Linked DNA regions of Homo sapiens: region 1 is reported to be linked to region 2. Evidence: microRNA targets listed by miRTarBase, many of them from high-throughput screens and not tested one by one. Region 2 holds a microRNA gene; the other region holds the end of a gene's coding sequence.

Region 1 (7,117 bases), not on the chromosome of region 2:
GCTGGAGAACAGTAAAGATGGGTGCCTGCTCCTTCCATTGGTATCGCTGACCTTGAGGGGCACCGACCTAATGCCAGCAGGAATGCTTCTGTATAAAATGTCTGACAACCCCTGTTGCAGGGTCTCACCCAGTTGGTGGCACTGGGAGCAGGACCCATTTAATGAAGCACTTTGGCTGTCCCTTGGTGGAGGGGGTATGCTGTGCTGGAGGGAAACTTACTCATCTGGGCTGCCCAGATTCCTCAGAACTAGCAGTAGGAAAAACTAAGTCTGCTGGTCCGTGGAGACTATGGCCACCCCTTCTACTAGGGGCTCAGGCCCAGGGAGATGAGAGTTCTGTCCTTGAGCCCCTGGCGGGAGTTGTTGGAGTTCCTGCAGGGAGGCCCTCCCAGTGAGGAGGGATGGGTCAGGGTCTTGCCTGAAGAGGCACTCTGGCTGCAGTCTGCCACAGCCGGTGTGTTTGGCTGTGGGGAATATTTCTTGCCACCAAGTCTCCCTGGCTCGGCAGGGGAAAATAGTGACCTGGAGCTATAGAGATGGCTGCCGCCCTTCCCCCGCCATGGGAGCTTAGTGTGTTAGGCAGCTAGCAGTCCCAGTGTTGGCTGCTGCCCCTCCCGCAGGGAGCTTAGACAGCTTAGGCAGCAGGCAGTTGCAGCTGTGGTGATGGCTGCAACTCCTCCCAGGAAGTCAGCAGGCTTAAGCAGATTCTAGCTGAGTGGCTATTGAGAATCTGCGTAGCTCTGTTGTTGGGACCCTAGGCCCTGGTGGCAGGGGCTCTCAAGTGGGATCTTCTGATCTGTGGGTTGCACAGTTCTGTGGAAAAAGCATGGTTTCCCAGGCTGGGTAGCACGCTCACTCACCACCTCCCTTGGCTGGTGGGTGGGGACTCCCCTGCCCTGTGTGGCTCTCAGGTGGGCTGCCACACCACACTGCACTTCCTTCCTCTCCGTGTGTCATACCAACTGCCTAGTCAGTCCTGGTGACAGCACCTGGATACCTTGGTTGCCGTTGCAGGGTTCGCATGCTGTTTTGGTTGTTTTCTGAATTCAACTTTTTAAAAATCCCACAAATAAGTGAGAATATGGGTATTGGTCCTTCTGTGCCTAGCTTATTTTATTTAACATAATGTCGACTAGGTTCATCCATGCTGCCACAAAAGAATAAAAATGATTTTATTCGTTTTATGGCTGCATGGTGTTCCATTGTGCACATATAGCACTTAAAAAAATCCGTGTATCCACTGATGGACATTTTGGTTGATTCCATATCTTGGCTGTTGTAAATAGTGCTGTAATAAACTTGAGGGTGCAGATGACTCTTTGACGTACTTATTTCTTTTCCTTTGGATATATAACCAGTAGTGGGACTACTGGATCATATGGTAGATATATTTTAATTTTTTGAGGAATCTTGACACTGTTGACCATAATGGATGTACTAATTTATATTCTCACCAACAGTGTATAAGTGCTCCCCTTTCTCCACATCCTCACTAGCATTTGTTATTTTTTTTTTTGTCTCTTTGATAATAGCCATTCTAACTGGGATGAGGTGATATCTCATTGTGTTTTTAAAAAGTTTGTTTTTATTTTTAAATTTTATGGATACATCATAGTATAGTTAACAATAATTTATTGTATATTTCATTGTGATTTTGATTTGCATTTCCCTAATGATTAGTGATACTGAGCATTTTTCCATAAGCTTGTTGACCATATAGATGTCTTCTTTTAAGAAATATCTATTTAGGTCTTTTCTCCATTTTTAAAATCATTTATTTGTTTTTTTGTTGTTATCGAGACATTTGAGTTTCTTATATATTCCACATATTAACCTCTTGACAGATGCATAGTTTGCAAATATTTTCTCCCATCCTGTAGGTTGTCTCTTTGCTCTGTTGATTGTTTCCTCTGCTGCGCAGATGCAATTTAGTTTTATGTAAATCCATTTGTCTATTTTTGCTTTTGTTGTCTATGCTTTTAAGGTCTTATCCAATTAATCTTTAGCCAGATCAATGTCATAAAGCATTTCCCCTATGGCTTTGTCTAGTATTTTCATAGTTTCAGGTCTTACAGTCAAGTTGTTAATTTCTTTTGAGCAGAGTTTTGTATGTGGTAAGAGATAGAGATCTAGTTATTCTTTTGCATACACATATTCAGTTTTTATAACATCATATATTGAAGAAACTGTGCTTTTCCCAATGTGTATTCTTCACACCTTTGTCAAAAATCAGTTGGCTATAGATACATGATTTATTTTTGGGTTGTCTATTCTGTTTCATTATCCATATGTCTGTATTTATGACCATGCTGTTTCAGTTACTATAGCTTTATAGTATGTTTTGAAGTCAGGTAGTGTGATGCCTCCTGTCATTTCCCAAGGTAACTGTGCATTGGGAAAAGGGAAATGATCTGATCTTTTGGGGACTACTGGACACTGGCTCTCAACTGATGTTGATTCCAGGAGACACGAAACATCACTGTTGCCCTCTAGTTAGAGTAGGCAATTATGGGGGTCATGTGATTAATGAAATTTTAGCTCAGATCCAACTTACGGTGTGTCCACTCGATCCCAAAACCCATCTTGTGGTTATTTCCTCAATTCTAACTGTGGTTATGTCCCCAGTGCAACTGTGGTTATTTCTCCAATTCTAATATGCATAATTAGAATAGGCATACTTAGCACCTGGTAGAATCCCCACATTTGTTTCCTGACTTGTGGAGTGGGGGGGTATTATGATGGGAAAGGCCAAATGGAAGCCATTAGAGCTGCCTCTACCTAGGGAAATAGTAAATGAAAAGTAGTGTTGTATCATTGGAGAAATTGCAGAGATTCGTGCCACCATCAAGGACTTAAAAGATGCAGGGGTGGTGATCCCCACCACATCCCTGCTTAACTTTCCTATTTGGCCTGTGCAGAAGATAGATGGATCCTGGAGAATGACAGTGGATTATCATAAGCTTCACCAAGCAGTGACTCCAATTGCAGCTGCTGTACCAGATGTGGTTTCACTGCTTGAGCAAATTAACATTTCCTGGTACCTGGTGTGTAGCTATTGATCTGGCAAATGACTTTTTCTCCATCCCTGTCTGTAATGCCCACCAGAAGCAGCTTGCTTTCAGCTGGCAGGGCCAGCAGTACACCTTAACTGTCATACCTCAGGAGTATATCAATTCTGCAGCCCCATGTCATAATCAAGTTCACAGAATTCTCGACCACTTGTCCTTCCACAAGATGCCACACTGGTCCATTATATTGATAACATTGTGCCAATTAGACCTAGTGAGTCTGAACTCATTGGTAGGACATTTGTGTGTCAAAAAGTACAAATAAATCTGGCTAAAATTCAAGGGACTTATACTTCCTCGTGAAATTTATAGGGTCCAGTGGTGTGAGACCTGTCCAGATAGCCCTTTTAAGGTGAAGGATAGGTGTCTGGCCCCTCTTACACCCAAGAGAGAGGCACTATGCCTGGTGCATCTATTTGGATTTTAGAGGAAACACATTCTGGGTGATCAGGGATTTGGAAGCAACATGATTGGAAAATTGATGACAAAGATACCTGGGGAAGAGCAATGTGAATAGACCTCTATGAATGGGCAAAGATATGAAGATATCTGTGTCCCATGTAAATACTCACCAAAGCATGACCTCAGAAGGGGAGGTTTTAATAAGTGGATAGGATGACCCGTTTTGTGGATACCAGTGAGTCTCTTTCCCCAGCCACCACTGTCATCGCCCAATGGGCTCATGAACAAAATGGCCATGGCGGCAGGGATGGAGGTTATGTATGGGTTCAGCAGCATGTACTCCCACTAACCAGGGCTGACCTGGCCACTGCCACCTTTGAGTGCCCAGTCTGCCAGCAGCAGAGACCAACGCTGAGCCCCCCAATGGCACCATTCCCAAGGGTGATTAGCCAATTACTTGGTGGTATGTTGATTACATTAGTCTGCTTCTGTCATAGAAGAAGTATGGATCCCGTCACCCAGGTAGTGAGCATAATACCTGACAGGTAGTTTTTAACTTACCTTCTCCCCACCTTCACCTTCTAGTAGTTTAATTTTTATGAAGTTCAACTTTAAAATTTTTCCTTTTATGGATCATGCTCTTTGCTTTTGATTTCAACTCTAAGAACTGTTTGCCTAGTATTTTATTTTTTACCTTTTTGTTACATGTTGACACCCATGAGAATACACACAGTCAAGAACAATGACTGGACTCCTAAACTCAGGCTTGGAGTAAAGTAGGTGGAATCAGGGTCTGCTCTTCCAAGGCCTAAGCAGTGGCAGCATAGCCATGTTTGGTGTTAGGGATCTATGGAGTATGATCCAATGAGAAGGAAATCATTACAAAGGAACACAAATTAGGGTGACCTCTTATTTATCACTGAAAACACCCGAGGCATTGGAATAATATAGATGTATCTTTAAAAGATCTGAAAGAAAAGCTTTGGACCTAGAATGCTGCATCCTATCAAATTATCAAATTGTCTACTAAAGTAAACGTGCCAAAATCGTGTTTTTAGATATGCATGCACTCAGAAAGTTTTTCTTCAACTGGTAATTTATGAAGTCTTTCACCATTGCATAGGTCATCTTGTTTATTAATAGTTTTCTATTCCATTGGCAATAAATGTTTATTTGAAGAAATTCAGACATTACAACTGTGTATAAAGATGAGGAAATATTCTCCCTCCATGTTTCCCCCTGCCCTTCCATTCTTACCCCAGTGGCTACACACATATGTACATTCATATTTATATAATGTTTTAATGTAATGGATTCATACTTTTACATTTGTTCCATATCTTAATTTTCTTACTTAATGGCTTTTCAAGGAAGCAGTAAAGATATATTTGATTCTTTGAACATGCTGCATATAGTTACACTTTATGGAATTAGTCATAGCATCTTTCTCCATTTCCCTATTGAAAAGGTTTTAGGTTGTTGCCATTTTTACCTATTATAAACTGGGATTTCCCTGAACATCTTTGGAGATTATATATACATATATCTCACAATATTCAATACACATTTACAATAATATTACTCAATACAAATTTATAATAATATTTCTATAGGCTAGAGTCCTAGAAATGACAGTTTCTAGACGAAGTATTAAATCACACATTTTAAACACATAGTTTATGGGAAGGTGAACCAGAAGAAATGTTTCAACCTCCCCTGTGTGAAATGGATAATTTCCATGTTATCCCTTGTGGTTTTTGTTCTTTCTGACCATTAGCATTTTTAAATTGTATGATAAAATATAAGAGGAAATTAAAAGTAAATAAAACTACAGCAGTATAATAAAGGAAGGATAGAAAGATAAAAAAGTAAAAGCTTAAGATTTAAGCAATAAAACATTTTTAGAAGGAGAAAAATAAAAAATTATAAAAATTCTCAAGAAGAGAAAATTAGCTAAAATATATATCCTCCTCTTCCTTCATTCTTTCTCTTTTCAATTTTTTTGCAAAAACATTCAATGGCTACAAATTACACATTTTTCAGCAATATATTGAAATGTGAAGAATTTTGGAGGATCTGCCTTAATAAAAGGAGAGAAATTTGTTTAGGAAATATTCATGGGGAAAGGATTAGATTAAAGCAGTTTTTGGAAAATGAGAAAGTGGAAAAAATAAATCTTTCCAAGAAAGAGGAGACACAGACAGGAAACGATTGTGATTTAAGAGATACAGGCCGAATTGTTGGGTCATCATCAATGGATGTAAGTGCCCACAATAGCCTTGTCTCACATGGGTCAGAAGTGCTAGCTTCCAACAGCTTTGACTGTTCACCAGAAACCAGTAGAAAACACGTCCAAGTTGAGCAGATTCCACTTACGAGTTTTTCAAGAGGGTGCTTCCTAGGATCTCTTGCTCATAAGCTTCCTCAGGCCCTGTTTCAGGTCTTTGTTTCTCAGGCTGTAGATAAAAGGATTGAGCATGGATGACAAAACTGTGTAAACAATTGTTGCCACGTGGTCCTTGACAGCGTAGGTGGATGGGGGCTGTAAATAGACACAGAAGATGCTTCCATAAAAGAGCGTCACCACGGTGAGGTAAAAACCACAGGTGGAGAAGGCTTTGCGTTTCCCAGAAGTAGAGGGAATCTTGAGAACTGTAGTGAGGATTCGTATATAAGAGAAAGCAATGCAGAGAAAACGAGTCACCAAAACAATAGGTGCTTCTGTCATCTGCACAATTTCATTGACAAATATGGAAGAGCAGGACAATTTCAGCACAGGGCTGAGGTCACAGAGAAAGTGGTGGATAACATTGGAGTCACAGAAGGTGAGACGATTCAGCAGAAGTGTGTGCAGGAGTGAGTGGAGGTGAGGAAATGAGCAGGAGAAGGCCACCAGCAGGACACAGTGGTGGTGGCTCATGGTGGTGACATAGTGGAAAGGGTCACAGACGGCCACATAGCGGTCAAAGGCCATGACTGCCAGAAGGCAGCTGTCACTGTTGCCCAAGGCATAGAGAAAATACATCTGTGTCAGACACCCAGCATAGGAGATGGTCTTCTTTTCTGACAGGAAGTTCATCAGCATCTTGGGGACAACGCTTGTTGTAAAGCAAATATCAGTGAGAGACAGAAAACTCAAGAAGAAATACATAGGGGTCTGAAGATGGGGGTTGAAGCGAATGGCCAGGATGATGAGCAGGTTCCCTGTTATGGTGACCAGGTACACGATGAGGAAGAGAACAAAGAGTGTCTTTTGGTCCTCAGGCCGGGAGGAGAGTCCCAGGAGGATAAACTCGGAGACACTGCTGGTGTGGTTGATTCTTTCCATTGACTTGGGCTCAGTTATAAACAAGAAGTTTTGTCATTTAACATGCTCTGATTTCATAACACCAATCATGAGAACCTAGCAAGTCTTTGTTTCTTCTGTTTGGTCACAATTAGCTACTGTGCTAATTGTGGGATGGCTTGTTCACCTCATGGTCCTTGATGGGGTCCTCCCTTCCCAAATCTATGGGCTCCATAAGGGCATTATATTGAAATCTGGAGGGACAGAGGGAGAGTTTTCCTTTAGAAACTTTCAGAAGTGGACTCCTCTAATTCAGACTCAGTATTTCCTATTCTGTGAAAAGCACTATTCACCTGCCGGG
Region 2 (7,094 bases):
CAAGCTGCCTGTGTGGGAGACCATCGTGTGCACCATGCGAGAAGGGGAGATTGCCCAGTTCCTCTGTGACATCAAGGTGTCTGTCCTGTACCTGTCTGCGGTGGCTGTCCAGCCAAGCCCTATTCCTATTCCCTATCCCCAGGGCTCCTCCTCCCTCCACCCTCTGCTAGACTGCCACCCGCTTTCTTTTTTTTTTTGAGATGGAGTCTTGCTCTGTCGCCCAGGCTGGAGTGCAGTGGTACGATCTCAGCTCACTGCACCCTCCACCTCCTGGGTTCAAGCGATTCTTCTGCCTCAGCCTCCCGAGTAGCTGGGATTACAAACACCCGCCATGATGCCTGGCTAATTTTTGTATTTTTAGTAGAGACAGGGTTTCACCATGTTGGCCAGGCTGGTCTTGAACACCTGACCTCAGGTGATCCACCCGCCTTGGCCTCCCAAAGTGCTGGGATTATAGGCGTGTGCCACCGCGCCCGGCCCACCCACTCTTTCCAGACCACCACACCAGCCTGCTGATGGCGTCCTGGCCTCCATTCCGCCTTCCCCTATTAGCCAGACTGAGGCCAGGGGACTCGTTCTCAAATGCAAATGACCTGTACATCCCTTTGTTTCAAACCTCTATGACTCCTGGTCACTGTAAGGATAGAGCACAGGGGGTCCTCACTTCATGTTGCTGATACATTCTTGGAAACTGTGACTAAGAGAAAAAACATACATCAGGTTTTTTCTCAGCCACCGTCATTTCTCTCAGCAAAATTTTGTTAGAACATTGATGAGAAGAAAAATTGGTTTCGTTATGTATTGTTTCGCCTACAGTCACAGTTTCCAAGAACCTACTTAGGACGTTAAGTGAGGACTTAAACCGTATAAGCTATAGCTGCTCACATAGCTTTTTGGGGGCTGGCCCCTGCCGTCTCACCCTCTTACTCAACCTCCCTGCTTTTCCTTTCCATTCCCCTTCTTAGCCAAGATCTTCCCTCTTCCTTCAAAGCTTATTCCTGGGTCACCACCTCTAGGAAGCCCTCCCTGACTGCTAGTGGTTGGCTCAACTCCCATGTTTGGGTCCTCCAACCCTCATGCCCTGCATGGCCAGGATCTGCTCTTCTGCCTTGTCCTAGGCTATTGCAGAGCAGGGATCTGGCCTGTTTACTTCTAGCTTTGGGATGCCCAGCGCGAGCCAGTCCAGAGCCAAGACTCAGGAAATGCCCGCTGATGGCAGCCCGGCAGTCAGCCCCTGTCCAGACAACAGGGCAGTGGGAGGAGTGGGGAGGACCCGGGTAGGAGGAATCTGGTTATCTGGTTCCCACCAGCCTAGCAGCTTTGCCAAGCAAGAGATTAGAGGCTAGGTCCCCTATGCCTGTCTCCCTGTGGGGTTTTTTTTTTTTTGACTAAGTCTCACTCTGTTGCCCAGGCTGGAGTGCAGTGGCGTGATCTTGGCTCACTGCAACCACCATCTCCTGGGTTCAGCTGATTCTCTGCCTTAGCTGCCTGAGTAGCTGGGATTACAGGCACCTGCCATCGTGCCCGGCTCATTTTTGTATTTTAGCAGAGACGCGGTTTCACCATGTTGGTCAGGCTGGTCTTGAACTCCTGACCTCAGGTGATCCGCCCGCCTTGGCCTCCCGAAGTGCTAGGATTACAGGCGTGAGCCACCACATCCGGCCTCCCTGAGGGTTTTGAAGTGGCTGGCCTGGGCCCAGCTCTGAGGTAGGCCCTCAGTGGGGTGTGGGTGGGGCAGAAGGAGGAGCTGCTGGGAACAGAATGTGGGGGGCCCCAGTTCTTTGCATAGTCCAGCAAAGGGCCTTATCCTCTGGAGGGAGAGGAGGTAAGAATTCTACTGGGCCTGTAAGGACCAGGGAGACAGGGGTTGATGGTAGGCATGTGTCTGTGGTGGGGGTGAGGAGGGGGTTAGGTGCTCTGTTTGGTGGCCAGAGAATGTGGCAGAAGCTGGGGCTTCACCAGGAGAGAGGGCTGAGCGACTGGAGGAGTCCTGAATTAAAAGCCTCCTGTGCTTAAACGGAGTAGGGTCCCAGTTGTCACTCTCTGGGCCTTGGTGTTTGTTCTCAGATGGTGGTGGGGAAGGGGGCTGGGCCTTGTGGACCCGGTGACCAGCCAGCCCACGGTGACAGAGCCCCCGGCGCCCTTGCCTTCCCGCAGCATGTGGTCCTGTACCCGCTGGTGGCCAAGAGTCTCCGCAACATCGCGGTGGGCAAGGACCCCCTGGAGGGCCAGCGGCACTGCTGCGGTGTTGCACAGATGCGTGAACACAGCTCCCTGGGCCATGCTGACCTGGACGCCCTGCAGCAGAACCCCCAGCCCCTCATCTTCCACATGGAGATGCTGAAGGTGAGGGGCCACCGCGCCTGGTCTCACCAGGCCCCCACTGCCCAGCCTCAGGGCGGCGCTGGCCTGTCCACCCAGGGGTGGTGGGATCCGCAGGTGGACTGCTGGGGGAGCGGACAGAGACAAGAAAACCTGTGCAGGACCCTTGGCAGTACCCTGGGTCTCCTTTCCTCCTCCTTCACATCTCAAATGTCACCTCCTCCAGGAAACCGGCCCTGCCCACCCGGTCTCCTCATTCTCTGTCTCGCAGCAGCTCATTTCCTTTATAGCCTCTGCCGCACCTTGAAGTCCCTTGGAATTCATGGATTTCCTTGTCCATTTAGGGAACCTGCCATGCAGCATGATCTCTGCGAGGGCAGGGCTTTTCACCGTCTTGTTCACTGTTCTATTCTTAGCACTTGGCACAGTGCTGGGCACACAGGAGATGTGACATCGATGTTTGATGCTTTTTGAGTGACAAGTAGCTCTGCTGCTGGTGTGTGATGTCTGGGGGCCCAGCCAGCCCAGATGTGGGTCAGGTCTGCTGCTGACGGACGCAGCTGTGGTGTCCCCGAGCCCCGCTGTGATATGCCCCATGCCCTGCAGGTGGAGAGCCCTGGCACGTACCAGCAGGACCCATGGGCCATGACAGACGAAGAGAAGGCAAAGGCAGTGCCACTTATCCACCAGGAGGGCAACCGGTTGTACCGCGAGGGGCATGTGAAGGAGGCTGCTGCCAAGTACTACGATGCCATTGCCTGCCTCAAGAACCTGCAGATGAAGGTACTGCCTGGAGGCTGAGGGGGAGGATGGATGGAGGGGGGTGTGGAGCCAGGGGGCCCAGGTCTACAGCTTCTCCCCGCTCCCTGCCCCCATACTCCCAGGAACAGCCTGGGTCCCCTGAATGGATCCAGCTGGACCAGCAGATCACGCCGCTGCTGCTCAACTACTGCCAGTGCAAGCTGGTGGTCGAGGAGTACTACGAGGTGCTGGACCACTGCTCTTCCATCCTCAACAAGTACGACGGTGAGCACCGGGCCCTGGGCTGCCGGGGGCTGCGAGTGGTCAGAGAGTGGCCTTTCTCCTGTCACTGCTGGGGTCAAGACCTAGCCTTTCACAACCCCCATTCTGAGCTCCCACGGGGGCCTGACTAAATGCCTCTACTCGGCAGGGCTGTGGGCCCCATTGTGCCAATGAAGCATGAATGGTGTATTGGGGGTGGGGTGGCATCCTCAGGTCAGGGAGGGCTCTCTCTCCCCTGTGGGCCCATGGTGCCAGGAGACATGAGGGCAGGCAGCTGGCCAGGATCCCCCCTCATGCCCTTGCATGCCCACTGCCCACTGGCCTCCCCTGCAGACAACGTCAAGGCCTACTTCAAGCGGGGCAAGGCCCACGCGGCCGTGTGGAATGCCCAGGAGGCCCAGGCTGACTTTGCCAAAGTGCTGGAGCTGGACCCAGCCCTGGCGCCTGTGGTGAGCCGAGAGCTGCGGGCCCTGGAGGCACGGATCCGGCAGAAGGACGAAGAGGACAAAGCCCGGTTCCGGGGGATCTTCTCCCATTGACAGGAGCACTTGGCCCTGCCTTACCTGCCAAGCCCACTGCTGCAGCTGCCAGCCCCCCTGCCCGTGCTGCGTCATGCTTCTGTGTATATAAAGGCCTTTATTTATCTCTCTCTGAGTCTGCTGAGCTGCTCCACTGGGAGAGCCGGGTCATCACCTGGCATTCCTGGTACTTGGGTGGCTGTTGGGAGGCAAAGAATCAGGGTTCAAATCCTAGCCCCTCCACCCACCAGCTCTGAGGCTCTGGTGTCCCTGTTAGAGAAATTACGATGAGCTCTTTCACCAAGGAAGTGTCTCTCGCTGGCCAGGGCTGGGGCGCCCCAGGAGCCCACAGTCTTAAGGGGGAGATGAAGTGGGTACAAGCTAGGTAGCTGGGCACCTGAGGGAGGTAGTCTCCTGGTGCTGCCCTCCCACTCCAGCCTCGGATCCCATGGTCTCCTGGCCTCGGTGTCTGGGGGCAGGGTTTCCATGAGAAGCTACGCTGGGGCTGAGGTGAGCCGGGTTGGGCTGGGGTGGGCTGACTGTCCAGAAAGAGGAGAGGGCCGAGCGCTTCGTGAGACCTTTTGAGGCCCAGGCCCCCATCCTGACCTGCCTGTGACATGGATGGCCCTGGGCGTGGGTTTCGTGCGACCTTTTGAGGCCCAGGCCCCCATCCTGACCCTGCCTGTGAGCTGGATGGCCCTGGGTGTGTGTTGGCCTCTCTGTGCACATCAGTGTCCCCTGTTGAACTGGAAACTGGGCTGGCTGCCCTGTGATGCCAGGCATGGGGTGAGTGGGTGGGGTGCAGGTGGCGTTTATTTTCATGGATTTATACACACTGGAAAAGCCTCTGCGCCCATGCCCACGCCCTCCTCCCTCCCCCCGGCGCTGGGTCCCCTCATATGAAAGGGAAGTAACACCGAGGAGCACACGGAGATATAGGGTGTGGGGCTGGGGGGGCCAGCGCTGGGGCCAAAAGTCTGGGTCCCCAGCCTCCCACACGCAGCCCCTCGGGCCCCTTGGGTGTGTCAATAAATAACCCAGGTCCAGGCTGGTGTGGGCCTCACTCCTCGCTGTCCAGCTTCAGGCTGATGCTCCGTGCTTTGCCCCGTGCCAGGGTGGTGGGTGGTGTTCCCGGGCCCTCACGCTCCGCCTGGCTGGGGCCCCTCGAGCGAAGCAGCTGGCTCTGTTTGCGCAGGAAGTCCACGGGGGCAGCCACACCATAGCTGCTCTTGCCCAAGGCAGCTCTCGGGGGTCCCGAGGAGGCATGCGAGTGCGAGCCCGCTTCCAGCTGGCCCAGGTGGGCCACATAGCCGTCTGACAGGAACTGTGGGCAGAGGTAGGCAGCGATGAGGGGGTGCTGGCCAAGGGCCCACACGCTGCCCTCCACGGTCCTCCAGAGGCACCTGAGGCAGGCTGGGGGACTGGTGGCAGGCTTGGCACAGCCTGAGCTGAAGCCTTCTCAATAGATAGGACCCCAGGCTGGGAGCCAGGGCACCTTGGCTGTGCTCCTAGCTCTGCCCTTCTCTGGGCCTCAGTCTCCTCATCTGGAAAATGGGGTCTTAGAGGAAAAATAACAGCAGCCAATGTTTAGCCAGCACTTGCTTTGTGCCCAGCCCTGTGCCTGTTGATGTGATCTTCATAAGCTGACATGGGCAGTGCCATGATCATTTCCATTTACAGATGGGAAGCTGAGGCTCAGAAAGGTCACAGTGGAAAGCCATGGCCGAGTGGAACCAGCGCCTAGGGTCTTGAGCACTTTCCAGTGTGGGCTGTCCCCTCTGGCTTGCCTGGCAGCTGGCAGCTCAAGCTGCTCATGGCCCTTGTCCTCGGAGGATCCCAGGTTCCCTGGAGGCCGGTTAGGCCTTCTCACATCTTCCCCAGAGTCCGTGGTTCCCAAGGCCTGGGACTGAGGGCCCTGCCCCCTGGTGGGGTCCTGTTCCTGGCCTTCACTTGGGCCTCACCTGGCACTGCGCCTGTAGCTTCCGCACGGCACGGCCCACGATGTAGGTCTGGCTCGGGGACAGCCCCAGCGCCGCGTATACAGCCACATCTTTGGGAGACCCATAACCGGCCACGATGTTCAGTTCTACCTGTGGCGGGAGATGCCAATCAGCCGCCCCAGGGGTGGAGCCGTGCAGCTGGGGGCGGGGCCTGTTGGGCTTCCCCAGATTGTTCTGGGGGTGGGTCCAGGCAGACGGAGGCGAAGACAGGTCCCAGTCCCACGGGGACAGGGGCGGGACCAGCTGCATCTCCCTAGTTGCCCCTAAGTACACGGGGCCCCTCAAACTAGGGGAGCAGGACCGTAGCGGGCCGCTGCAGTCAGGCAGGGCCCGGGCCGATCCAGTTGGGAACAGATGGGCCTCCGCCGATCCGGGGGTGGAGGGTAAGGGGGAGCGGGGGCGGGGTCAGGACCCGGAGCCTCCCCCAGCCGCCGCACCTCCTGCACCAGGCTCTGCAGAAACATTGCCTTCTGGCGTAGTGGGTCGTGGGTGAGGCCGTCGCAGAAGGAGACGACGCCGTGGGGGAAGTTGTGCTGCGACAGCCATGCCACCACGCGGTGCTTCTGCATATCCGGCCGGCCTGTGACATACACGATCAGGTAGCCGGAGTCCTGCCAGTGCCTGTGGGGCGGGGGCAGCGGTCAGCTCCGCTGGCCAGGGGTGAGGGGCCGGTCACCCCGGTGAAATGGGTGGTGGTGGCAGTGGCAACTCCTACCTGACCACGTCCACGGCGCCAGCTCGCACCTTGGGGTCGCTGCCCATGATGGAGACGCTGGCGGTGAAGGAGCCGTCGATGCTGAAGACCACAGCCTCCGTGCCGCGGGCCACCACAGTCAGGCAGCATTCGGCATAGGTGTGGTCGCCCCTGCGGCCCACGGGGCGGGGCGTGAGTGGCGCGGGGCGAGGCCTGGCGGAGCCCTCCCGCAGAGGCCCGGCCAGCCGCGCTCACCTGACCACCATGCGCACGGGGTAGACACCAATGCCCAGCGCGCGTTCTGGGGGAACTGGGAAGGTGAGGCGGCCCGAGCTATTGGTGACTTCGGTGCCAAAGTGGATCCACTTGCCCGACAGCGGCTGCGTCATGATGTAGACATCCACCTGGAGGGGAGAAGGGGCGGGAGGTAAATGGGGGCCCTGCGTGGAGGTGGGCAGAGGCGGGGCTGTCGTCGGGGATGGGTGGGTCTAGGGGCACAACCACCAGGGACCAGGAGCTGTTCCGAGGACAGGAGAT

Evidence for each region. Region 2 holds the annotated microRNA hsa-miR-6752-3p (UCCCUGCCCCCAUACUCCCAG, at 3,186-3,206, shown strand). A microRNA usually pairs through its seed, bases 2 to 8, with sites in the 3' UTR of a target mRNA and lowers its output. Matches are read on the target gene's strand: a 7mer-m8 pairs with bases 2 to 8, a 7mer-A1 pairs with bases 2 to 7 and ends in A, and an 8mer does both.
Region 1: the mRNA of OR1L8 is a reported target of hsa-miR-6752-3p. The part of its 3' UTR that is shown has no 7-base or 8-base seed match.

The regions. Positions count from the first base shown.
Region 1 is chr9:122,561,680-122,568,796 of GRCh38, forward strand. It overlaps OR1L8 (olfactory receptor family 1 subfamily L member 8), which reads right to left. Exons shown (of 5, transcript NM_001004454.2): 5 at 5,438-7,010. The coding sequence starts at 6,798. The coding sequence ends at 5,869. It also overlaps a transcript of OR1J2 not described here. Among named protein-coding and RNA genes, the nearest start is that of OR1N2, 12 kb to the left of the region's middle.
Region 2 is chr11:67,487,110-67,494,203 of GRCh38, forward strand. It overlaps MIR6752 (microRNA 6752), which reads left to right and starts at 3,136; the gene lies at 3,136-3,206. It overlaps AIP (AHR interacting HSP90 co-chaperone), which reads left to right. Exons shown (of 6, transcript NM_003977.4): 2 at 1-76; 3 at 2,158-2,346; 4 at 2,929-3,105; 5 at 3,207-3,348; 6 at 3,679-3,994. The coding sequence ends at 3,884. It overlaps PITPNM1 (phosphatidylinositol transfer protein membrane associated 1), which reads right to left. Exons shown (of 24, transcript NM_004910.3): 20 at 6,813-6,961; 21 at 6,579-6,728; 22 at 6,301-6,484; 23 at 5,825-5,953; 24 at 4,659-5,187. The coding sequence ends at 4,924. RefSeq lists enhancers at 1-65, 236-315.